Regions from separate parts of the Homo sapiens genome. Here region 2 is linked to region 1. A link means that fine-mapping ties the variant in region 1 to the expression of a gene that starts in the linked region. Tissue or cell type: fibroblasts. Region 1 holds a variant in brackets; the other region holds the start of a gene. All regions are shown on one strand. Distances are between the middles of the regions. Region 1 overlaps DSP (desmoplakin). Region 2 holds the start of DSP-AS1 (DSP antisense RNA 1).

Evidence for each region.
Region 2: it holds the start of DSP-AS1, and the variant in region 1 is fine-mapped to the expression of DSP-AS1 in fibroblasts (GTEx, PIP above 0.99).

The regions. Positions count from the first base shown.
Region 1 is chr6:7,559,145-7,570,239 of GRCh38, forward strand. DSP (desmoplakin) reads left to right here. Exons shown (of 24, transcript NM_004415.4): 4 at 82-256; 5 at 3,508-3,636; 6 at 4,592-4,642; 7 at 6,215-6,376; 8 at 7,233-7,337; 9 at 8,210-8,305; 10 at 8,637-8,762; 11 at 9,293-9,445; 12 at 10,042-10,196. Among named protein-coding and RNA genes, the nearest start is that of DSP-AS1, 22 kb to the left of the region's middle. RefSeq lists an enhancer at 1,783-3,358. The variant T/C (reference allele first, on the strand shown) is at 7,009.
Region 2 is chr6:7,533,553-7,549,410 of GRCh38, forward strand. It overlaps DSP-AS1 (DSP antisense RNA 1), which reads right to left and starts at 9,531. Exons shown (of 2, transcript NR_183331.1): 1 at 9,494-9,531; 2 at 6,899-7,501. DSP (desmoplakin) reads left to right here and starts at 8,119. Exons shown (of 24, transcript NM_004415.4): 1 at 8,119-8,533. The coding sequence starts at 8,364. RefSeq lists an enhancer at 3,329-6,107.

The DNA of each region.
Region 1 (11,095 bases):
CTCAGAAAAGGGGAAATTTGCCCAGAACGGGTTTTCATAGGCTGTTTTCCTGCAGTGGTTTAAAGGTTTTTTTCTTTGCAGGCTTCTTCAGCTCCAAGAGCAAATGCGAGCCCTTTATAAAGCCATCAGTGTCCCTCGAGTCCGCAGGGCCAGCTCCAAGGGTGGTGGAGGCTACACTTGTCAGAGTGGCTCTGGCTGGGATGAGTTCACCAAACATGTCACCAGTGAATGTTTGGGGTGGATGAGGCAGCAAAGGGTAAGCAGCTTCTTGAACAGCCCAAACCTGTGCAGGCCAGACGTTCCAGCACGATGGGGTCAGCCCATGTGTTTGTGTGACAAAGAGTCTTCTAGACCTCAGGTGGCGGCAGCAGCTTGCTGTTTGCAGGATTTTCCTCCTATACAATTTGAAAAGTGGTCTTCTATTTTGGAATGAATGAGATTTCAGTGTGGCTTGGGGAATCAGCCTCATTGCTTTATAGTCATCCTTTATCACACAGGTCATATTTAACATGTGTAATTTAGTTAGTAGACTTTGAATATCCAGTTCTTATATTGACCACCGGAAAGATCTGTTGTGGGAGTTTATGTGCTAAATAACTTCATTGTTCTATGTGAGTGGCAACTGACCTCATCTGTTTTACTCATAGGTACTTGAAAAAAAGCCCATTGTGGCAGTTCATTTAAAATGGTCATAGATTGGAGGAGCTGGAAACAGTGAAACTAGCCATTCTGGTTTAGGCTCATTGGTTGCTTACCTTAGACTTTTGAAGTCTCAGTTGTCTCATTGTGCAACCATCACGTCACCAGTGTGGGAGTGAAGCAAAATAATGTTGGAAGGATATGCTGATCCTTTCCCTAGAACTGGAGTTTCTGCAAAGTATTTTTCAAGACTAATGATTGTTGTGTTGTTTCATGTAGTCATTATGTCCTATAATGAACAGGTGGTGGTAGAAATATGCCACAATCATGTAGATGGGAATTTTATAATGAAAACCTACTCCTAACCCTTCCCTTGAGAATGTGGATGTGTTAGAGTGATAAGTTGTGGAGAGATTGTTATGCAATTTAGATGTGGTTGTAAGAAAGCTTGGTTTGATTAGTTGTTAGACTAATTCAGCAGTGGTTCTAAAATTTCTCAACTCCTTTAAAATTTTTGTGTATTCTTTCCTAAGTAGTGAGGACTTCAGTGACTAAACATTTATTCATTCATTCAGTTACCTTTTTCTCCCATTTATTATAAAGAATATAAGCTATTACAGAAGGTAAGGCTTAGAAAGAACAAAAGTCAGTTAAAATATCAGAAACCTAAATACAAATCTATTTGTATGTTTTTCAAATTTCCTTCTAATCTTCGAGCACATTTCTTGAGGATTTTATATGTAGTGCCACCCAAGGGTACAAAGATTATGGTCCCTAGTCCTGAAAATGAATGTTATCGAAGAAAACAAGATGCATACGCTCAAATGCCAAATTTCTGTCTAGATCAGCTATAATACATTCTTGCTTAGTTAGAGGGGAGGGTGGCCAGCTCCTGTGGAGTGGAACAGTCACAGGAAGACATAGCGGAGCTGATGGGGCTTAACTACATCTTAAGGATCCACAATGATGGGCAAAACAGCCTTCCAATCAAATTAGTTTGAAATGTCATATCTCCTAAAGTTTTCTTAGTATGACAGTTATAAAAAAAGACAGCCTGTAATTTGTCATTTTTTTGTATTTATGTTGGGTGTAGCTTAAGAATGTAGTAAATGCTCAATGTCTTTAAATTTTGGAAAAGTATTACCACATGAATTCAGTTTTATGTCATTTTCTTTTTTTTTTTTTTGAGAGGGAGTCTCACTCTGTTGCCCAGGCAGGAGTGCAGTGGCATGATCTCGTCTCACTGCAACCTCTATCTCCCGGGTTCAAGCAATTCTCCTGCTTCAGCCTGCCGAGTATCTGGGACTACAGGCGTGTGCCACCATGGCAAGCTGATTTTTTGCATTTTTAGTAGAGACGGGGGTTTTGCCATATTGGTCAGGCTGATCTCGAACTCCTGACCTTGTGATCCGCCCGCCTTGGCCTCCCAAAGTATTGGGTTTACAGGTGTGAGCCACCACGCCCAGCCAGTTTTATGTCGTTTTCTAACAGAAGCAATTGATAAGCGATGCTTTCCGGGTTAGGCACGCAGCCCTCATGGTTGCAAACAAACTAAAAGCTGTTTGATTGCTTACTGCAGGTTCGCTCTGGGATTTGCTGTGGCTCCTTTCCTCTTATCGCTTGTTCCCCTGCATGCTTTACCTCATTCCCAGGAGACTGAGCTGCAGGGCCCAGCTGATAAGGGAACTGTTGCCCCAGCAGCCAGTCAGGAGGCAGGCACTCCTGAGCCAGGTTTTTGTTTTGTTTTCCCGATTTGTGTTTGCCGATGGACAGGTCAGATACGATACACCTGGCTGGTAATGAGACGCCTGAGCTGGAGCCTGGTCACGTTGCTAATGTCCCACTGCACGCACCTGGCTGTCTCTGGTTTAAAGCCGAGACAGCTGTGGGAGAGAAGGGTCAAAGTCCCGGGTAACCTTCTGTTGTCTGACTCTGAAATGGCTCCCCTTTCTGAAGCCTTGCCAAGTGTATTAGAACATGGATGTGGCTTAGAACAATGTGTTTTATGTTCTTGCTGCAATCCCAGATTGGAATGTTTGCCCTTGGCATGTCCAAGAGATGACACAGGTGATTTGGAAATTTACATGTACTCATGCAAAAGAAGGGTGAGATAATGGACTTGCCCCAGTGTGGAACTGGCGGAACAGTGTGTGTGATTCTTATTGTGAAACATTCTTAAATTTGAGGCTCAAATAATAAATTTAGTCAGATTTAATTTTTTAAAAAAGGTAACTTAAGTCCACAATCCTAATATTGCCAACACTCATGGAAATTGAATCCTTGAGTAGATATAGTGACTTCCCTTTGAAGTGGCCCATAGGGAGTTTTGCATCCTAAAAGGGAATGGTATATCCTGGATTTTAAAAAGCCAATAATTACATCCATCAAGACAATATAAAGAAATAAACAATGAAAGATGCTTTTAGGTTGACTATTTAGTTTGGGGAACAGTGTATGATTGCATTTATTTAATGATTTTTTTATGCACATTTAAGAATGATTAAATGAGTATTTTATAACATATCATACATATATATGCACACATATGTTCTGTGCACATGCTTGCTTGCCTGTGCACAGGTAGATTTGGTTTTTTTTTTTTTTCAGAAGACATGATCTTGGTTTTCAGGTTCCCATTTCTAAATTTCCTTCTCTGCCCATCTTGAGCTGGGGTCAAGCAAGTTGAGGGAAGTATTTGGCAACCCTGCATTAGCCATTTGGGAACCTTTAAAAAATATTCTGGCTTCAAAAATACTCCATATTTACATCTTTGGTTCTATCTGAAGTAAAGCCGTGATGGTGTGCGTAAGTGAAACAGGTGCAAAGGGGCAACAACAAAGGGCGCCTCTCTTTGTCTTTGTGTCGCAGGCGGAGATGGACATGGTGGCCTGGGGTGTGGACCTGGCCTCAGTGGAGCAGCACATTAACAGCCACCGGGGCATCCACAACTCCATCGGCGACTATCGCTGGCAGCTGGACAAAATCAAAGCCGACCTGGTACTTGTCTGTGTTTCATTTTAGAGTCTTCAAAATATCTACCGAAGGATCGTGTAATTACTCAATCCCAGGGAGTTTCTTCTGAAACATTGCTATTATTTCTTTCCCAGAAGACTGGAAATGTTTAGAAATCCCACTTCTTAAATGGGGAAGTGGAATCAGTAGCCCTATTAGAGATTATGTTAACACTTGAAGAGGAGTTAAACCAGAGGCTGAGGTTGTGCAAACACTCATTTGCAGTTTGTGAATAAGTCTCTTTAGGGGTGGCAGTTTGTTTCTGCGGTAAGCAGAACATCTTTTTGAATAGGGGAAATGCAACAGTCTTATACAGTAGTTTGTGTCATTGGTGAATCCTTTCCTAGGTGGTAATTAAAACATTATTTCTACTGAGCAAAGCCATATGTCATCCCGACACCCGCTCCCATGCTGAAAAAAGTCAGACTTGAAACTGGGTTGAGAATTACAGCATAAAATCATAACTGATCTTAAGTGCTTAGTTTCCCGCAGGTCTCTACACTTGTAAATCACTAAACTTTTTTTTTTTTTTTTTACCTGAGACCATAGCTTCTCATCCTCATTTCTTCTTCTGGCTTTTTGGGGCTTACTTTTGTCCACCTGAGCCCCTGACCAACTTTCTCCTTCATTTCTCTAAGACCTAGGGAATCCTAAATGATGTCTTTAAACTTTAAGACAATTTTCTAACACGTGAGTCTTTAAGTGACCCTGATCTGGGCTTTCCTTTGTGGAGACGGTGCTGCCAGGCCAGCAAGGGTTTGCTTTCCAACCGCCTAGGAAAAAGTCCCCATGGGTGAAATATCTCATAGAGCTAGTAATTCTTTCTTTCTATGGAGGGATCTGAGGCCAGTATCTGAAGAAAAGGAGGCTTAGAAGGGCCACTCTTTTCTATACAATCCACAAGGGGATTTATATCTACCTGCTTTTTGTTGTCTTCTAGCGCGAGAAATCTGCGATCTACCAGTTGGAGGAGGAGTATGAAAACCTGCTGGTAAGCTGATTTATTTCTCAAGTGCATCGACTTTCTGTTGTTTCCAATTCAATTCAGTTCAAGAAATATCAAGCACATCCTGGCGGGGAGGCACCTGTTCATCGATGCTAATGTTGTTGCTGCTGCTGAGTTTCCTTTAGAAGTGAATTTTAAAAGTTGTTTTCTTTTCTTTTTTTCTTTTAAGTAGAGACAGGGTTTCACCATGTTCACCATGTTAACCAGGGTGGTCTCAAACTCCTGACCTCAAGTGATCCGCCCGCCTTGGCCTTCCAAAGTGCTGGGATTACAGGCGTGAGCCACTGCGCCCGGCCTAAAAGTTGTTTTCAGAAGTCAGTCCCTACTGCTGTTCTGTTTTCAAGTTGTGTCACATAAATGGCACTTGTTAAGTACTTGCAGTTGAAGCAAGAAAACGTTGCCACTTGTGAATTGTGGTCTTTTTTACGAAGTGTAAGCAAAAATAAAAGTTATTTTTCTCAAGATAGAGGTCTACCAGATCGTCATCACAATTTTATGACACTCAGTCATATCAGTTACTTGATTCATAAGAGGAGAGATTTCCATTCTTTTGCCTATTTGTGTCATCATATCTTTACTTTTTAATGTTTCCTTGTTGGCAATGATACTTTTTAAATAATGTCACTCGTGGTGACACAGTGATTTTCCTATTGGGCTGGGGTGTGACTTATGGCACTTTGAATTTTTGGGGAGAAGGTAGGAAAAGCTTGATTTCTCTAACAGTCCATTTTCCCCCTTATAGTCCAAAACTAATTATTGATGGGTACAAAAATACAGTTAGATAGAAGGAGTAAGTTCTAATATTTGATAGTACAATAGGGATATTATAGTTAATGATAATTTATTGTATATTTCAAAATAGCTTGAAGAAAATATTTGTAATGTTCCCAACACACAGAAAAGATAAATGTTCGAGGTGATGGATATCCCACTTATCCTGATTTGATCATTATACATTGTATACATGTGTCCAGATATCATGTGTACCCCCAAATATGTACAACTATATCAGTAAAAAATACCAAAAAAAGACCTTATTTAGAAGAATAAAAAAAATTTAAGGCCAGGTGTGGTGGCTCACGCCCATAATTCCAGCACTTTGGGGGGCCGAGGTGGGCGGATCATCTGAGGTTGGGAGTTCGAGACCAGCCTGGCCAACTGGTGAAACCCCGTCTCTACTAAAAATACAAAAATTAGCAGGACGTGGTGGTGCATGTCTGTAATCCCACCTACTCGGGAAGCTGAGGCAGGAGAATCGCTTAAACCCGGGAGGGGGAGGTTGCAGTGAACCGAGATCGCTCATGCCACTGCACTCCAGCCTGGGAGACGAGAGCGACAGTCCGTCTCAAAAAAAAAAAAGTTGCTGCCTTCTTGTTCATTGCAGATTTGGATGGGTCTTTTCCCATACCAGGTGGTCAGTGAATGCACAAGGTTAACATTTTTCCTATCCGTGTGATTTTTTTTTTAAAGGGACCACAGGTTTAATCTTTAAACCTGCAGAGAACACCAGTCACTGCATATTGTTATTTTAATGCTGCCTTTGAACCTCCTGTGCAGAAAGCGTCCTTTGAGAGGATGGATCACCTGCGACAGCTGCAGAACATCATTCAGGCCACGTCCAGGGAGATCATGTGGATCAATGACTGCGAGGAGGAGGAGCTGCTGTACGACTGGAGCGACAAGAACACCAACATCGCTCAGAAACAGGAGGCCTTCTCCGTAAGTTCACCCCACGCGGCTGTAGATGCTTGTCTTGAGCCTGTTGCCTTGAAGAGCTGGGGTCTCGGGGAATGATTGGTCTATTAATAATTTAATCAGCCACTTGCAATTCAGCCTTCTTTGAAATGGTCGTGAAAAATCCTTCCTTCCTGAAAACTTCTCCGTGTGGAGGCCATTATCCTTAGCAAACTTATGCGGGAACAGAAAACCAAATACCACATGTTCTCACTTAGGAGTGGGAACTAAATGATGAGAATACATGGATACATCGAGGGCAACAACACACACTGGGGCCTTTCGGAGGGCAGAGGGTGGAGGTGGAAGGAGGGAGAGGATCAGGCAAGATAACTAATGGGTACTAGGCTTAATCGTGGGTGATGAAATAACCTGTACAACAAATCCCTGTGATACAAGTTTACCTGTGTAACAAACCTGCACATGTATCCCTGAACTTAAAATAAAAGTTAAAAAGAAAAAGAGGGGCAATACCTTGTTTAATATCCCAGAAGACCGTAGTTTGTTTAGAGAGGATAAGAACTGGTACGTTCAGATAACCCAGGATGTGTGTGGCACTGCAGGAGGGTGGGTGGAAGCCTGGGATTAGAAAACCTCAGGATGGATGTAGCTCTTCT[T/C]TCCTCCTGTGTCATCTTGAGTAAGCCTCTGCCACATCCTCTCCTGTAGCAAACATCCTTTTCAGCCTTAAAAATGCTGTGATTCTTGAGGAAAACAGCGTGATTCTTTGGCATTGTTCATTTCCAAAATGCAGTTTTGTATTTCACTTTTAAAAAGTACTGTGGGGGTGATGGAAGTTTAATGATGACTTGCTGCAAAGGATTTCTTATTTCTTCATTCACAGATACGCATGAGTCAACTGGAAGTTAAAGAAAAAGAGCTCAATAAGCTGAAACAAGAAAGTGACCAACTTGTCCTCAATCAGCATCCAGCTTCAGACAAAATTGAGGTAGGCTTCATGAGGTTTATATTTTTGTTAGAAAAAAAAAAACTTTTCATAAAGTAAGACTAACCAAATGAGTAATTCTTATATGACTTAAAGCCGTGCCAACTTTATTTTCTATTTTGGGATCAATACCCTACACCAGGGGTTGGCAAACTCTTTTCAGGAAAGGACCAGACAATCAGTATTTTAGACTTTCAGGCCATTTGGTCTCTGTTACAATTACTTAACCCTGCTATTATAGTGCAGAAGGAGGCATAGACACTGTGTAAATGAATGAGTGTGCCTGTATTCCAATAAAACTTTATTTACAAATAGAAGTGGGCCACATGTGGCCCTTGAGCTATAGTTTGGTGACCGCTGCCCTAGACTGCCATCTTTGGGCCACGCTCAAGGCTGACATTAGCTGGTACCACTGGTATGGCCATACTGCTTGTTAAAAAACACAGAAAGTTCCATATCAGTTGGTAAGAATCACTGTCTTGAGCCCCCTAAGCCCTTTGCTTGGATGCCTCGAACCTCCCCATGATTCAGCAATCCTCCAGGAACAGGGCTCGGTGTGGCAAAGGGATGCCACTCCAGTGCTAGCCCCAGTGACAGTTCTGATTGGTCAGTATCTCTGCTATTTGGGTGATACATATTTTGACTAAGACTCCTCATGGTGTCTATTTGTGAAAGCTGATTTTAAAATTTAGTTTTGACCATACCAAGAGATATATGGTGAGAAATTCTCTTTCCAACTTTTAGAAAAATATCTGCTTGACTTAGAATGAGATAAAAACTGCTTACTAGCTTTCATGCAGGCTCACCTATCTCTTGGTGTTCATGCATCTGTACAACTGAGCTAGGCTAAGACAGCTGACATTTTCTTGTTTCAGGCCTATATGGACACTCTGCAGACGCAGTGGAGTTGGATTCTTCAGATCACCAAGTGCATTGATGTTCATCTGAAAGAAAATGCTGCCTACTTTCAGGTTTTTATATTTAGTGATAATTTTGTTGTTATTTAGGTCTTAATACCTAATCTTTTGAGTGTGTTTTATAAAGCACTGAAAATAATCTTCAAAATGTTGCATAAATCCTCTTCATTGATTTTGAGTGCAGAGTAGCATAGATTTGCAACCTTGCCATCAGTCCTACAAATAGTTTCCCGCTGCCACATACCTAAATACTTTCTGCACGAATTTTTTCCTTTAGCCACCTGTCAAAGAGATGTTTAGGGATGACAATCCTTGAAACAGAACTACTAGATGAAATTGCTCATTGAGTTGCTGTTCATTCACTGATCACTCTCATCCTTCACAGTTTTTTGAAGAGGCGCAGTCTACTGAAGCATACCTGAAGGGGCTCCAGGACTCCATCAGGAAGAAGTACCCCTGCGACAAGAACATGCCCCTGCAGCACCTGCTGGAACAGATCAAGGAGCTGGAGGTATCGTCTCAGACCCAGAACCTCAGCAGCTGTGCCTGATCAGGGAGATAAAACACATGCCTTGGATGCAGTTGGCTCTGATTAGTATTATTGTACAATGCACGCCCAGAGCCAAGCAAGCATTTTCTTCAGCTTCCAGTGGCTTTTCTCAAAATTAACTTCTTTACATGCCCAACTACTCTTGACAGTTACTTTTGCTTCAGTCTGGGCAATTGGTTGAAAATAAGAACAGAGAGAACATTACTTCACATGACAATTCCTTTGGGAACGCATACTTCAAATTTTATCAGCATAGCCCTTTCACACAAGGATGTTCTTCCCTGCCCACTTAATTCCTGCCTGCATAGCTTCTGGAGAGTGTTGTCATGAAAGGTTCTCATGTTTCCTGCCGACGAATTTGTGATTTTTTACAATTGATGCAACTGCAGTGATACTCAGTGTGTCATGTAGCTACATTAATGCAGGTTGAAAATCTCCTCTAAAACTCACAGGGTATCTATGTTTAAGTATGATTTTATTCACCATTGCAGAAAGAACGAGAGAAAATCCTTGAATACAAGCGTCAGGTGCAGAACTTGGTAAACAAGTCTAAGAAGATTGTACAGCTGAAGCCTCGTAACCCAGACTACAGAAGCAATAAACCCATTATTCTCAGAGCTCTCTGTGACTACAAACAAGATCAGGTGTGTACTCATTTAGAATGATACAAAAGTTTTCCCTGTCTTTACACACAAATTTTTGTCCATCAAGAAAGCAACATTTAATCTAGAGTTCAATAATCACCACAGTCAATGTCTTTGATCTATGAAATCAGCAGCTATGGAACAAAAGCAGCAGCTCTGTTCTGAATCATATGGTAGTTGTCAATAACAAGGACAGTAGTTATTTTTAGAACTTTTAAAAATTCGCAAGGCTTAATACTTTTCTTCTAGTATGTCAAAGTTGTCTGTGATCACTCTCATCTTTAAATTTCTGATAAAAGAAATGAGAAATGATGCTTTTATGTTGCATATAAAGTGAATGTCTCTCACTATGGGTGACACAGTGAGACCAAATAAATAAATAAAATGTAGCTCACTTCATGTATACCTTTTAGGCTCACATGTATTATTTAAAGCATCGGTATTGTTGGGTTGTATGATGATCAGCTTCATTTGAGGGGAAAAACGTAAAAGCTTTAATAATTCGCATGTGTTCATCTCTGTTTCCATCATTGAGAAAAAAAATAAAAACACATACTTATGAATAAAGCCAAACCCTGGGGTTGCTTGCCTTACAGAAAATCGTGCATAAGGGGGATGAGTGTATCCTGAAGGACAACAACGAGCGCAGCAAGTGGTACGTGACGGGCCCGGGAGGCGTTGACATGCTTGTTCCCTCTGTGGGGCTGATCATCCCTCCTCCGAACCCACTGGCCGTGGACCTCTCTTGCAAGTAAGTCATCCAAGTTCCCAAAGCCACGCATGCACGCATGAATGTGAGGGCAGAGGAAGAGGGCAGGTGTTTATACCTGAAGCTTAGACACACGATGCCTTGCCATAATAAACACCTTCTAAAAAAAGGAACCTTGTGAAGGTCACCTTCACTTTGTCTTGCAATTTTATGTTGAATAGACAGTCGTTATTGAAGAATAAAAGGGAATATCTGGCCGGGTGTGGTGGCTTATGCCTGTAATCCCAGCACTTGGGGAGACCGAGGTGGGCGGATCACCTGAGGTTAGGAGTTTGAGACCAGCCTGACCAACATGGAGAAACTCTGTCTCTACTAAAAATATAAAATTAGCCAGGTGTGGTGGTACATGCCTGTAATCCCAGCTACTCGGGAGGTTGAGGCAGGAGAATTGCTTGAACCTGGGAGGGGGAGGTTGCAGTGAGCTGAGATCGTGCCACTGCACTCCAGCCTGGGCAACGAGAGCAAAACTCCATCTCAAAAAAAAAAAAGGAATGTCTGACTGTAGTGGGGCCAGAGTGAATAATACTTGTCATGCACTTCAAAGGCATCATTTTAAGGTTCTCCTTTTCTTAGAAAATCAGTTGTTATACATGTAGCTACAAATATAAAATGCCTTTAATATCAATATTCACTCATTGTAGGAAGAACATTCGTTTAACAGGTTGTCCATGGCAGATTCCTTTAAACCATTTAGTATCGAAATCTTCAACCACACACTGAATAGGGAGAGTAGTGTAGTAAGCTGCTGTGTGCTCATGACCAAGCTTTGGGTCATTGGCATCTAATGCACCTGCCATCCTGCCTTAGACCTCTGTCAATTACAAAGTTGCCGAAAAACAAGACAACAACAAAAAGTTGTAGTATATATGTCAGCCAATAAT
Region 2 (15,858 bases), 23 kb before region 1:
GTAGTCCCAGCCACTAGGGAGGCTGAGGCAGAAGAATTGCTTGAACCTGGGAGGCAGAAGTTGCAGTGAGCCAAGATCATACCACTGTACTCCAGCCAGGGTGACAGAGCGAGACTCTGTCTCCAAAAAAAAAAAAAAAAAAAAAAAGAGCTGAATACAAACTTGTATATAACCTGACATTGGTTGGTTAAAAAGTTCATTAGGGGAAAAAACTGGAAGGAACCTTCCAAAAATATTTAGAATGATCACCTTGTCTGGTTGATAATTTGCTTTGCTTTTCTTTGCTTCTCTCCATTCCCTTCTGCCTTTTCTGAGTATTTTACAGCAAATACATAGACTTTTATAAGCAGGAGGAAAAAACATCCTAACTTCAGGTACATCCTTCTAAGCAAGCCTATTAATTGATTTGCTGTGTGAGCTCTCAGCTCCAATCTGGGCTTTGCCCTTTACAGACTTGGGCCTTGGCAAGTAATGCAGGTTCTTTCTCATGGCCTCACTTCTCTTAGCCAGTGTAGGATAAGATGAGGAGTTTGAATAGGGTTTCTTCCCTGTGATCTGTGATCTTACCAAGCTTCTGACAAAAAAAAAAAAAAAAAAGCAAAAACAAACAAACAAAAAAACAAAACAACCATAAAAACAAAAACAAACCAAAAAACCCCAAACTTTTTGGGACCCTAGATGAGGGGAGTCAGTTGAAACTTGAAACTAAAGATGACCTTCCCCCAGCTCCTGCTCTATTTAAATGATCACTTTCTTTTTTCTTTTCTTTGAGACAGGGTCTTGCTCTGATGCCCAGGATGGAGTGCAGTGGTGATCTCAGCTCACTGCAGCCGCTGCCTCCCAGGCTCAGGTGATCCTCCTGAGTAGCTGGGCCCACAGGTGCGCGCCACCATGCTAGCTAATTTTTGTATTTTTTGTAGAGATGAAGTCTCGCTATGTTGTCTAGGTTGCTGTCAAACTCCTGTCCTCAAGTGATCTGCCTGCCTTGGCCTCCCAGTGTTGGGATTATAGGCGTGAGCCACTGTACCTGGCCTAGATGTTCATTTTCTGTGTGTTGCTATTATAACCAGTGGGTTGTTTGATATTTTGTCTCCTGCTTTAAATGTTAAGATCAGTGAAGACAGAAATCTGGACGTTTTTCTTATTCTTTAGTCTCCCGTATACCTACACCTCTATCTGTAGCAGGGAAACAATGTATGTGCAATAACTAGCTCATGATGATAAGAAACAAATGGTTTATGAAATTTGTTGTTGCTGATGCCTAAGATTTTGAAAGGTGGTCACTTTGGAAACCAGGTTACATTTCGTTGGCATTACAATCATCCAAAGTCAGATCATTTATGTCTTAGTGTCCATTTTGATTTCATGATGTTTAGTATATGAATCTCTAATTTCATTTTTTCTTAACAATGGAAGCTACATTCAAACAAAACAAAACAAAACAAAACATGCAAATACATGCACTGTAATTTGAGGACACCAAGAAAATCACCACAGCTTTGGGAATACAACTAAAAAAAATAAGAGTAGCTGGATGTGGGAAGATCACTTGAGCCCAGGAGTTTGAAGCCAGCCTGGGCAACATAGTGAGATCTCTAAAAATAGATAATAAATAAATAAATTCATTAATTCAATAATAACTGTAATGCATTTTGGTGTGACTTCTGCAAAGCAGGCTTATTACTCTAGTGGAGGAAAATAACAATTGAGGTTGGGTGTAGTGGCTCATGCTTGTAAACTCAGCACTTTGGAAGGCTGAGGCAGGAGGATCACTTGAGGCCAGGAGTTCAAGACCCGCTTGGGCAACATAGTGAGACCTCACCTCTACCAATAATAAAAAAATTAGCTGGATGTGGTGGCACATGTCTGTGGTCCCACCTACTCAGGAGGCTAGGTGGGGGAATCGCTTGAGCCTAGACAGTTAGGGTGTAGTGAATCCGGATTGCCCCATTGAACTCCAGCCTGGGCAACAGAGCAAGACCCTGTCTCCGGAAAAAAAGTAAGAAAATAACAATTGATGGGATAATTTCTTGGTTTCAAGTTGATACCAAATCATTGCTCAGAAATGTGTTCTTTCATGACTGATGGGACAGGAATTTTGACATAATGGAAAGGGCATGAGACTAGAAACAGATGGAATTCTGCTATTTTAGGTATCAAGTAACTCACGGACGTTTCTTAACTTCTCCAGGACTCACTATTTTCTCTTTATTAAAAGGTGAGTTCTGGTTTATATAGTGCTTACATTGGGGACATGCTTTCCTGGACAGAGCACGTGTGGTCCAGGTGCAGCGGGTGGGAAGTGTCCTACAACCACTCTGGCACCACCATGATCTGTTTCCACTGGTGGCCATGCTCAGGGGGTTTCATTTGGAGAATGAGTTCTGAGGCTTTACCAGTTTTTAAATAACTGGTGCAAAAATGTTTTAAGCAAGCTTCTGTTTCTGAAATTCTCTATGGAATATAAATGTTGAGTGCCTTCAGTAAAGGATGATTAGCTATTCAAAAGTTTCTTCACGTAACCATTAGCACATTATATCTCCATGTGGTGTTTGCTGATAACTGGGTTTACTAGCAATAATCTGCATCTTGCATTTGTATATATATAAGTTTGAGTAAGTGTTCCAATCCTAGCATGTTCTATAGATTGAGAGTCCCTCACAATCATGATAAGCTTAGAAAATTACTTCCAAAGTATTTTCAAAAGGTAAACTTACTTGGCTGTTGTATTATATTTATTGACTGTGTGGCTTACCCACTAAAGTAAGTGGGAGTTATTGTTTAGCTTTAGATGTCACTTGGCCATGGGTGTGAGTGGCTCCTCTGTGGTCCATAGCGGTACTTGCCCTCACCGGGAACTTTAACCTCCAGCCTCGCATCTTGCAAATCTGGGTGCTACATGAAAACAGGATCAGGCAGGAAAGTATGGATGAATCCCCAATATCCATGCTATCCAATGAAAAGCAGTCAAAAACTTACTCTATTTTTTTTCTTTTTGGAGACAGGGTTTCACTCTGTCACCCAGGCTGGAGTGCAATCGCTCAATCTTGGCTCACCGCAGCCTCGACCTCCTAGGCTCAAGCGATCTTCCCACTCTAGTCTCCCCAGTAGCTGGTGTATACGGCCATGCCAGGCTAAGTTTTGTATTTTGTATTTTTGTAGGAAGGGGGTCTAACTATATTGCCCAGGCTGGTCTCAAACTCCTGGGCTCAAGTTATCCTCCTGCTTCGGCTTCCCAAAGTGCTGAGCTTACAGGCATGAGCCACCGTGCCCGGCCCAAAAAACATATTCTTAAAGCACAATGGATAGCACAATTTACCTGTGCCAAACACAAACCAAATGGCAACAACAATAACAATAAAAACTCATCACTTCAGTGACAAAAAATGAGAAGTTCCTTTGAGCTATTTAATTTCCACAAAGTTAAGTACCCTCCCCCAGCAAAAATGAAAAATCACTGCAAACAGACAAACTCCCCTGTTCCTGAATGACACTTAAACCAAGTAAACCAAAGATAGTTTGGGGTTAATGTATATATTTTACAAACATTTTCCTATTTTTGAAACGAGCTTTGTCAAACAGCTTTCTTCATTTTGACAATTTTAATTAGGAGAGACCAATCTTATTTTTGTGATAATTCAGATCCTAGATTCATTATTTCTGGAGGATTCTAATTTATTCAGACAAATGGAAGAGAAAAGAAAGAGTAAAATATACATATCCATTTTATTATTAAGATTTTAATTGTCTGACATTTTAACAGGCATTTTCTTTTCCTTCACATTATGGTTCCAATCCTAGCTTCTGCCTGTAATTTTGACTTATTAAAATACTACTCCTTGGCCGGGCACTGTGGTTCATGCCGGTAATCCCAGCACTTTGGGAGGCCAAGGTGGGTGGATTGCTCGAGCCCAGGAGTTCCAGATCAGCTTGGGCAACAAGGTGAAATCCTGTATCTACAAAAAATACAAAAATTAGTCCAGTGTGGTGGTGTGCGCCTATAGTCTCAGCTACTGGGGAGGCTGAGGCAGGAGGATGACTTGAGCTCAGAAGGCAGAGGTTGTAGTGAGCCAAGATCATGCCACTGCACTCCAGGCTGGGCGACAAGTGTGAGACTCTGTCTCAAACAAAACAAAACAAAACAAAAACCCCAGAACTACTCCTCTGTTAGGCAGAACAGTTATTTTAACTCATGGGCTATAAATCTTCTTGTGATGAAGAGGTATCATTTACCAACACAAAGATATAGAGAGTTCCCATGGGATTTTGAGCAAGTAAATGATTCTTCTTAATCTCACTGAAATCAAAGTGTCGTTTTCTTTTAAAAATCTGCTCTGAATATGACTGATTCGTCTTTCCTAACTGCAAGGTGATTTCTAAGGTCAGCCAGAGAGAAAGTTGCCTGTCAGTGATCTGTTTTATCAGTACAAGGGGAGCTATCTATGAGTGGCAGGGAAAAAATAGCTGACCTTAGGTCAGCCAGTGAAGACTCTGCCAGACTTTGGATTCTGATTTTTTAAACCAAGTTGTAAGAAAACAAGCTACTTTTAAACCTCTTTGCTGCGCTTTCAAAATTCTATAAATATACCTTCATTATAGCATACTTAATGTTGTATTGTAATTATTTGTTTTACTACTGCAGACTTTGATATCCTGCAGAAAAAGAGTCATGCTTTATTCATCTTCATGTGTCTAGCATTGAATCTGTTGTGTAACATGGTAGATGTTCAATAACTGCTTTCTAAATGAATGCATCTTAAATGTGTCCAAGAGGGAGGTTTACTGATTTACATGTGGGATAAAGACAGGAACATTAACGGTTAAAATTTCGCATCCAGCAAAGAACTTTTGGCTTAACAGGTGGTACCTTAAGCTTTATATGTTTCACAGTGTTCAAGAATGTTCACGTATTTTATCTCATTTGACCCTCACTGTGGATTTGGAAGGTTGGCAGAGCAAGTGTTATTTCCATTATACACATGAAGAAATTGAGCTCTTGCATAAGTAAATTGTAGCACTAAGATTATAACTATGGGCAAGTTATCCTCGCTCTTCACTGTGTGATGAGCCAACCTGGACAACTGATGTGTGTGTGTGTGTATGTGCATGTGTGTGGGTGTGTGTTGAGGTGGGGGGTGTTCCATCTGTCGGGCATGTCAATCTGTTTATTTTATCCTCTTATCTTTCTTTATCACCCTTAGAGAAAGATAAATGAAAGCCACTGTCTTCCTAGAGCAGGCATGTTTGGTAGCTGGAAGCCGTTCGTGTTCTTGGGGATGCCTGGAAAAGCCCAGGAAGCAGTAAGATGGGTGAGGAAGCAACGCAGCCAGAGGTGTGATTGGTGGCGTGGGCTCTTCGCCTCCTCCTCTGTTTTGCCTGCAGATTGAACAGTTTTGTGAGTCTGGGTGGTGTTTGGGTCTGTGTGGAGCCTGGTTCCTATGACCGTAAGGGGACCCTTGGCTAACAAGAGCTTTTGTTACCACTGGGGGGGTGGTTAATAGATATGTGGGTTTTTTTTAAAAGGATAATTCTACCGTGCAATTGTGTAGCCTCTTTATTACACATTAGGGAAGAATAATCCCTGAATTTTTTTTTTTTTTTTTTTTTTGAGACAGAGTCTTGCTCTGTTACCTGGGCTGCAGTGCAATGACACGATCTCTGCTCAATATAATCTCCACCTCCTGGATTCAAGTGATACTCGTGCCTTTGCCTCCCAAACAGCTAGGATTACAGGCGCCTGCCACCACACCCAGCTAATTTTTGTATTTTTAGTAGAGATGGGGTTTCATCATGTTGGCCAGGCTGGTCTCGAACTCCTGACCTCAAGTGATCCACCCGCCTCTGCCTCCCAAAGTGCTGGGATTACAGGCATGAGCCACCGCACGGGCCCCTGAATTTCTTAAATCAAAGTTTTACTATAATATATTTAAGGGCAGTGACTGGACCCTATTTATCTTTGTATGTTGCAGAGTATTTCCATATCCTAGGTTATAATTATTTGCTGAACAAATGAGATGCATAGAGGGAAAACATCCTAAATGAAATGTTGTACATTATGCACTGACATTTTCCCTCCATGCATGTCTTTCTCTCCTCCACCAATGGATATTATGGGCTGTTTGTGCAGAGGCTGACTTCCAGCCATTGATTCTGTTTGAGAAAAACCACCGTCTTGTCTATAGATCAGTGTTTGTACAGGTTGAGCATCCCTAATCTGAAAATCTGAAATCCAAAATGCTCCCAAATCCAAACTTTCTGAGCACTGACATGATGACCACAAGTGGCGAATTCCACACCTGACCTCATGTGATGACTTGCAGTCAAAGTGCAGTCAAAACTTTGTTTCATGCACAAAATTATCTAAAATATTGTATAAAATTACCTTCAGGCCATGTGTATAAGGCATATAGAAAACATAAATAAATTTCATGTTTAGGCTTGAGTTCCATCCCCAAAGATCTCTCGTTACGTCTATGCAACTATTGCAAAATCCAAGAAAATCCAGAATCCAAAATATTTCTGGTCCCAAGCATTTTGGATAAGGGGTACTCAATCTGTATAATCATTTAAACACTTGACCACTTTGGTTTTATTAAAGATTCGAGGAAATTGAGACTACGATGCAAATTATTGGTTGTGCTAACAGTGATAAACTTTTATCTCATTATATGTGTTTACTCCTTGAATTTAAGACGTTCAGCTGTAAAAAGAAAAAGAACAAGACATTTTGTCAAAAATTATGCCTAAAGGGTCAAGTTGTCATGAGAAGTGCTATAATACGACAAATTTTAGAAAGTCCCCCCCACTCCCTTTACAACATAAAAATGTAGTTTTTTATTTTTGTTTTCAGTTCATAAACATTTTGGAAACGCACTGTATCAGAAGGTAATTAGCGGCATTGTTTGGAAAGATGAAAAATTTATTAGAAAAGATCTTTAAATGGCTTTTACTAAAGCGTCATTTAACAATTTTTCATATTATAGAAACAGCTTTTCATGGATGGTGTGACTGGGTCTGTATCCAAACCCGGTTCGGTTCCTGGAGCCAACGGCGTAGTTAACACTCAGCCTCTTGCAGTTAACACTCAGCCTCTTAACTGGGAGTGGCCCTGGAGCAAGTCGCTGGAATGTTCAAGCTCCGCGTCACTCATCGGTACCAAGTTGATGATCTCTGCCTAGGGTTCTTCGCCACCCTCAGGCTCAAGTCCCAGGAGGCCTCCTCCGCTGACTTGGGTGAACAGCTCTGAGTTCCGGAGAGGGTTCGGTCTGCGGAGAAGCGCGCGAGAGACAAGCATCCTCAAGGTTCTGGTACAAAATTTGGAAAATGGACCTGGCGTTGAAATCTTTACTCCTCGTTTAAAAAGACCATCGAAAGGGAAAAAATAAAAGAAATTGCAGTTTATATTTTTGTTATCCCATGAAAAATTAGCTGCAGTGTTTTCCTCTTCATGCCAAAGAGATTAATATTTACGGTGAAGACTTTTCCAGGAAGTCGTGGTTTTCTGTAAAAAAAGGTTTTACACATCAGAAATCGGACTTCTGGGGCAATTTCCTGAATTCCTGGAATAAAACAAAACAAAAAAAAGCCCCCAAACAAAACTCTATCATCTAAAGCGTTCCCTCCTCACTGTGGTCCTAGTCAATGCGTGGTAGGTAGCGTTTCCAGTGATCAACAAAAGTAAATATTTGACCAGTAAGTCTCCAATCGAGAGGCCCCTCCATTCCAGCTATTTCCGCCCGGGGACCGAGGAAATCCTCAAAAGCCGGGCCACGCATTCCCAGCCCGAGAGGCCCCAGCGCAGAGCGCAGCAGCCCCCGCGAGCGCAGGTCCTCCCCGCGGTGGCTTCGCCCAGGGCGCTTGGGTCTCGGGGACCCCGCCCCCGCCCCGCCCGGTGTTACTCAGGCCTCGGTGGCGCAGGGCGGAGTCGCGGGCGGCGGGCGCAGGTGGGGAGGGGCGGCCGGAGCGCGTCGGTGACACCCGCGGGGGGGCGGGGAAGGCGCGGCGGCCGCACCCCACCCTGGGAAGAAACCGGCCAGGTGTGGCCTAGGCGCCCAGTGCCAGCGGGGAGGAGACTCGCTCCGCCGCCGACCAACACCAACACCCAGCTCCGACGCAGCTCCTCTGCGCCCTTGCCGCCCTCCGAGCCACAGCTTTCCTCCCGCTCCTGCCCCCGGCCCGTCGCCGTCTCCGCGCTCGCAGCGGCCTCGGGAGGGCCCAGGTAGCGAGCAGCGACCTCGCGAGCCTTCCGCACTCCCGCCCGGTTCCCCGGCCGTCCGCCTATCCTTGGCCCCCTCCGCTTTCTCCGCGCCGGCCCGCCTCGCTTATGCCTCGGCGCTGAGCCGCTCTCCCGATTGCCCGCCGACATGAGCTGCAACGGAGGCTCCCACCCGCGGATCAACACTCTGGGCCGCATGATCCGCGCCGAGTCTGGCCCGGACCTGCGCTACGAGGTGACCAGCGGCGGCGGGGGCACCAGCAGGATGTACTATTCTCGGCGCGGCGTGATCACCGACCAGAACTCGGACGGCTACTGGTGGGTACCTGCCCGGAGAGCGCGGGCTGCGGGGCTCGCGGGACAGGGAGGGACCGTCCTCCTCTGGACGACTGGGAGACTCGGGTCCCGAAGGTGGAAAGGTTTTTTTGCCCCAGGTCCCGAAAGAACTTCCCGGCCGCGCTGGGAGCAGGACCGGGTGTCCTGACGCGTGCGGGGACAGGTTGGCCCCTGTCCTGCGAACAGGGACTCGGTCGTACCTTTCTCCCCTCCCGCGAGCCCGGGCGGGTGGTCAGAGGGGGCGTCGGGCCCGCGCGGGGCTGTCCCCTGCCTGCTGGACACGGCTGCAGCCGCCTTTGTCCCAGCCCGCGAATGGGAGGTCAGGCGAGGTGGGGCTGCGACCACAAAACCCAACCTCTCCAACCGTAATCAAAGTAAAAGAGGAAAGGAGCGGGGCCCCGGTCCTGTCTGGTGGCCGAGTGGTGCTCGGGGCTCCGCAGTCTCTACCGGCTCACCCCCAATCCCCAGTAACCCCGAGACCACGACTGCAACGACTCCTGGACTCCTCGGCCACCCAAGGACGTTTGTATCAAGGCTGCGCGTCCCGGCGGCGCGGGGTCCTGTCCCGAGGAGGCGCTTCGGCTTCCCCTGTCCGGGAAACGAAACTTCCCCGCCGGGGCGGCTGCCGGGCCCGGGTCTCGAAGTTCGGCCGGGACGTGCCTGTTACCTTCGGTCGTCCGCGCCGCAGCCCCCGCGGGCGAGCGCACCTGGGGCCCTGCCTCTGAGCCTTTTGTTTCCTCCTTTTTAAAAACACCGGATGAAAGACCCCAGTGTGCCTTGGATCGCAGAGCGCCGGCCGCATGTCTGCTTTGATCCAGAATGTGTGGGCAGGGGAGTGGGGGGGTGGGAGAGGACGACGCTGGGGGCCCGCCCTGGCCTAGGCGCCCCGGGAAGACCCCCCGGTGAGAGGGTCAGCTTCTCCGGATCCCAGCGGAAACAGACCGAGGGCGTCATTTGGGTGGGTGGGGAAGAGATCCTGTCCCTGCTTTGACCGGGTCTCGGGAGCTGGACTCTAGATGCCCACGTGAGCCGTGCGCGTTTTGCAGCCCGCCCCACCTCCCCGCCCCCTGCTAGTTGTTCCCACGTCGGGCTTTTGGGAAAGAGGCCCTGAGCGCCGGGACGTTATTTACCAGGCGTTGTGGCCCTAGGCCTGGGAGGAGCAACCTGAATGCGCTCCAGGGAGTTTTGTTTTGCAAGCAGTTTTGAAGGCAGGGACTACTCGAGTTGCAACCTGTTTTCTGCTTAGATTCATTTATTTATTTATGGGGCATCCTGAAAATCTATTTTCGCTTTTTTTTTTTTTTTTTTTTTTGAGTTAGCAAAGAATTGTCTCAATCTTGGAGTTCTTTGTTTCCTGAACAAAATGTGTCTGGGGATTTCCAGGGAAAATGTGCCAAGCAATAGAAGGAATGAAAACTTGGGTTTTCATTACATTTGTTTTAAAATTTTGCCAGCCATTTAAATCTGAAATTTAAATTTTCTCCCGCAGTCCTCCAGGATTTGAGATGCACATCCTTTAAATGTGTGGGTTACACACAGTTTAAATCCAAGTCAGAATAGAATGCGAAGGACTCTTTAGTAGCTCTTTTTGGCGTTTTCATGAACCAAGTATTTATTTTGATTATTATTTATAACTATGCTTTTGCTAGCTTGGATTTCTTATCTTTTAAATAGACAATAATCAGTACTATTAATCGAATATTTCACTCCCTTGGCTTCTTATACCTTTTGTAGGGGAGTAAAACTTTAATAAATTAAGTGGTTAATGAACTGCATCAAGGTACATGTTTTATTAGGATTCCCCATTGAAACATTTAATTTTGGGCAGGCTCCATGTTTTTTCCTTGTGTAGTATCATCCCGTGCTCTGTTTTTCCAACTTAAAGCCTACTTACAAACTTGTCAAGTCTCACATCTCTCTGGGAAGGGGAAAGAGACCCAAGTGAAAAATTACCTGACTTTGAGGAAGGATGTTTTTTCTTCTCATTAATGTTGCTCTGCCCGGCAGCAGGGCGTCAAGCTCAGGGCTTGAGTCGGGAGGCGGTCATTCTTTCCGGGGATCCTGGCAATGGAGGTTCCTCTCGAGCCTGACCCAGCCTGCAGTGGTGCTACTGACTACAAAATAGCCCACAAATGCTGACTTCTGCGTTTTCAAATAATAGCGACCGCCTGAAGGCAGGGCATGTCGCAGTTTTTCTGGTGGCATTCTGGTTTTGTGTGGAGGGATATGTTTGGCTGTGGCGTGCACTTTGTAGAAGCAGGGTGCCCTCTGTGCCCAAGGGAGCCACTGCTCTCTGCTAAGTGAATGATGATTAAGAATTTCATAAGTATTTTTCTGACCCGAAGGTTTTCTAAATAAAGGTTTTTGTGGTTTTCTTTTCTTTCTTTCTTTTTTTTTTTTTAGCATGAAAACTAGTATAAAAACTATTGGTTGACTTTAAACTCATTTATTTCAAAAACTGCTACTTTATGGCTGAATTATTAATAGATTGGTGATTTTTGAGATGAGTGTTTTGTATCTAGCCCTTCCCTGAATAAAGAAATTTGAATGTGTGGAGGGCCCAACTCTTAGTTTTCCTTTGAAAATGACTTTAAAACATCTCTCTCTCTCTCTGTCCTTTCCACGAACAGCACTTACCCGTTTTTAGGACAGTATTAGATCTCATTGTATCCTAATTCCCTCTTTTTCCCCCGACCACCTGCCTGTTCTTTGTGTCTTTGTTTTAGATTGAATGGAATCTGCAACTACTTAATTTTGTTAACATTTGGTAAATGTTACAACCTTGATAATGAAATAATAGACATGTACATGTTTTGAAATGTAAATTTTGGATTCTTCTTGGATAGGACATTATATTAATACTGTTTTCAATTACAGCAGAATTACTCTAGTCTTATTCCTGTCATTAAAACAAATTATAAATAGTGAAATTTGTTACCAAAGTAACAAAGTCTCACAGTTAGATCTTTCTTTCACCCATCAAAGGGTGAATTTGTGGGAGGATTAAAAGCAGAAAATAGTCATTAAGTTTCAGAAATATGTGGTTATAATATTAATGCTTATTTTTCTTCAGATCTCATGATTTCAAAACTGAGATACGTGTGATCATTATTTCATATACATTTTAAAGTTAGTCTTAAATTAGGTTTTAAGAGAAGCTTATTTCTTACTATGAGACAAACAGGTCAATTTGCCTGAATTTTAGAGCGGGGGGACCCCTAAGGATCACTTAGCCTAGGCAGAAACCCCACACGCACACTTCAGAGACAGGAAGCTGAGGACGTGCCGAAGATCCTAGAATCCACTTAGGGCTGGGTTGGCCTGAGGACCCAAGGATCCTCACCTTGGTTTTCCCTGTGCCTTCACAGCCTGACTTTTAGAATGGACAGGCCTGTAATTACACCATGCAAGTATCTCAAATTCCATTAATTCCTTAATTCAGCAAGTATTTACCGAGCATTGACTGCATTCTGTGTTAAGTGTCAGGGGAGATCAAGGTGGAAATCTATAGCCTTGAAAGGAGTGTAGGCCCTTCCAAGGAAGATAAGTACACGAAGACTAGCACGCAAAAGCGGAATGCACAGGAGGGGTGTACGTGACTTCAGAGACTTCACAAGGAGGTGAGAGAACATCTGTCGTGGGGGCACTGGGAAGACTTTATAAAGGAAGTGGTGTCGAACTAGACTTTGGAGTATTTCAGCTGTGTCAGGATGGGTGGGCAGAGAGCCTTCCAGAGGGAGAGAAGAGCATGAGAAAAGTCTGCGAAGCCTGTGGAGTGATCTCCTTTTAGAGCATTCTCTCTGAGCAGGGAGGCAGTAAGATGAAAGGAAGAAGCATCCTTTTTTGACCAAGGCATTGGAGACCTTGAATGCCCCGGAGAGGGATTTGGATAGGCAGAGGGAAGCTGGTGCAGGTTTTCACTGAAGCCATTGAAAGTCTCCTCCATTGGAGGAGCAGGGAAGTGAGACGATCATAACTGAGCTTCTGGACTGTTTAGGCGTTGGCTTAAGGAAGCCATTGCACCAGTGAAGGAGGGAGGGAATGAAAGTCTGAACCAGGGTGAGGGCAGTGGATGGAAAAGTAGGTATTGCCAAGGTGGAGTGACAGCTTCAGCTAAGAATTGGATGCGAGAGACAAGGGAGAGTCTGAGAAAACAGGCCCAGAGCTCGAGTGACTCATAGCGTAGATAGTCTAAACACTTTTCTGGGAAATTATTGCAAAGCAAGATTTAGTTTAGCTTAATATACGGCAGGTAACATTTACATGGTTATTAAATTTAACTTGTATATTTTATAAAAATATCAGGTCTGTGGTTAATAATAGTTACCATTACCCAGCAAATACCTGTGATGTGCCTTGTATAGGATGTTTGTTATCTCAAGCCTCATAACAAACTTCCCAGTTTACAGATGGGAAGCTGAGGTTAAAATATTTAAATGGCTTGCCTAAGGTCACACAGCTAGTTAAGTTGTTAAGCTAGATTTGAATCCAGTATACCACAATGACGCAAGAGAAGATTAAACCTGCAGTGTGAGAATTCACCTTTTCTACTTGTAAACCCTTTTCTATCTGAGTTATTACTTATTTTTAATCTGTTGAATTCCTCAGTCTGCGTTCCTGTGAAATATTTCATAATCATTGTATTCTTTCATTAATACTCTTGTAGAGTTTCTATCTGCTTAGGAAAAAAGAAACTCAATTTGATTCTGCATTAAGCCAACTAATTGTTAGTCAGATCTATTTAATGGGACAATACAGCTTTCAACAGTCATTTTTTTCTCTAAATATGGGCATAATTTCATTGTTCAGGTAATGGAAGTGTCTTGGAAAGGGAAAAACTGCTGATGCCCCTGATGCCTCAGTGCTGACTTCTTAGGGTGGAGCAAAGGAGGGCTTGGGTGTGAGACTTGGAGAGTGTGTCTTGACTCTCAGCTAACCAGTCTTTCCAGACCAGGAGGTTCTAGAAGGAGTGGTTTCAGTCTGGAGGCCTTGTTGCTGCAGCTGGGAGCAGTGCCTCACCCCTTGATTTTCTCCATCTCCCTCCCGCTGGGCTGGTCCCAGTGGCCCTGCCGCTTGAAAACGTTCAGATGTGGTTCTGATTTTGAAGTCACGGCCCCACAGATCCTAAGACTCAGACATGAGCTGCTCATTTGAGGTGACATCTTGTAAAATACTAGTGCAGTCCAATAATTTATGGCTCACCACCGACACCTTGGGCTGGAAGGGCTCATGAATGTGAAATCTACATTTCATGAAAATGAAGACAGTTTAGTGAGAAGCTGCAGCAAACAGATCAAAGGTTCTGCTTGGAATTACATTTTGTTTGTTTGTTTGTTTGTTTTGAGATGGGGTGTTGCTCTGTGGCTCAGGCTGGAGTGCAGTGGCATGATCATAGCTCACTGCAGTCTTGACCACTCAGGCTTAAGTGACTCTCCCACCTCAGCCTCTCGAGTAGCTTGGGACCACAGGCGTGCGCCACCATACACAACTAATTAAAATTTTTTTTTTTTTTTTGTAGAGACAAGGTCTCGCTATCTTGCCCAGGCTGGTCTTGAACTCCTGGGCTCAAGTGATCCTCCCACCTTGGCCTTCCAAAGTGCTAGAATTACAGGCAAGAGCCAGTGCACCTGGCCTTTGAATTTTCTTACCCTCAATAAGTTTCTTTCATGCTGCTAAAGTGTATCACTCTCTGTGAATTGTCTCAGTTATTTTTGAGTCTTGTAGGGAACCTGAGGAACTCCTGAAATGCCTCACACTTAATACCCAATCCATTTCTTCCTTTTCCTCTTTCTCTTTTTTTTCTTATCACCCCGCCTCCATTTTGCTGCAGGACATCCTTAAAGTTATGGACTGGGGCAAAGACAAAACACAAAAACGAAATTTCTGCCGGGCGCGGTGGCTCACGCCTGTAATCCAGCACTTTGGGAGGCCGAGGTGGGCGGATCACAAGGTCAGGAGTTCCAGCCCAGCCTAGCCAATATGGTGAAACCCCGTCTCTACTAAAAATACAAAAATTAGCTGGGCGTGGTGGCGGGCTCCTGTAGTCGCAACTGCTCAGGAGGCTGAGGCAGAAGAATCGCTTGAACCCGGGAGGCAGAGGTTGCAGCGAGCTGAGATCATGCCACTGCACTCCAGCCTGGGCAACAGAGCGAGACTCCGTGAAAAAAAAAAAGAAAGAAAGAAATTTCAGAACCATAACAACAGCAGCAGCCTCCGCAAGTAAGAGCTATCACTAAGTGAGGTCTCCGCCTCTGCAGTGCCCCTCTGAGCCTCACCTCAGCCCCAGGAGGGGGGTGTTCTACCTGTCACAGAGGCAGAAGCTCCAGGCACTGCCAGTGGATGTCACTTTAAGTTGCTCAAGGTCACAGGCTGTATAACTGGAAGTGGCTGAGCTGGGCGTGGACTCCAACTGTGCCCTACTTCAAAGTCCTTCTGAAGTTAATGATATGTGATCAGTTTTCCACTATCCCACAAACACAATCTGCCAAACACACAGTGTGAAAATCGAGAAAACCGCCTGGAAAAGAAGCAGAACTTTTATTAGAGTACTGTTTCTGTAGCTGCTGGGCGAAGACAAAATGCAGGATCAAAGGAGGCTGTCTTTCTAAAATCTATAGAGACAAAAAATCCACCATGTTTGCTCACTGCTGGAGTGGGAATGGGGAGGGGAGAGCTGTGCTCTCTGGTTGAGCTTTTGAAATCAGGGTAATGAGATGAGCCATAATACCCTCAGATGGGTCTTTTGTTTGCCTTTGTTTTTCTTCCACTTTACTAAGCCAAACAAACATTCATTAAGTACCTTCTGTGTGCCGAACCTTATTTATGTTGTTAGGTTAAGTGTTTGTAGGAGTCCAAGATGACTAAGACATGGGACTTTGCTCTCCAGGAGCAGGTAGCCAGGTGTGTTTAAACTAATGCAAGAGAGGAGAGGATGCAGAGGTGTGATATGGAAAACTCCTTGCAGAAGGCTGTAACTTTTGAAGTTCTGAACTTTTGAAGGATGGCTAACACAGCATTTCAGCTGATGTATATAGAGAGTGTTTAATGAATTTTTTTTTTTTTTGAGACGGAGTTTTGCTCTTGTTGCCCAGGCTGGAGGGCAATGGCGCGATCTCGGCTCACTGCAACCTCCACCTCCCAGGTTCAAGCGATTCTCCTGCTTCAGCCTCCTGAGTAGCTGGGATTACAGGCATGCGCCACCACGCCAGGCTAATTTTGTATTTTTAGTAGAGACGGGGTTTCTCCATGTTGGTCAGGCTGGTCTGGAACTCCCGACCTCAGGTGATCCTCCCGCCTCAGCCTCCTGA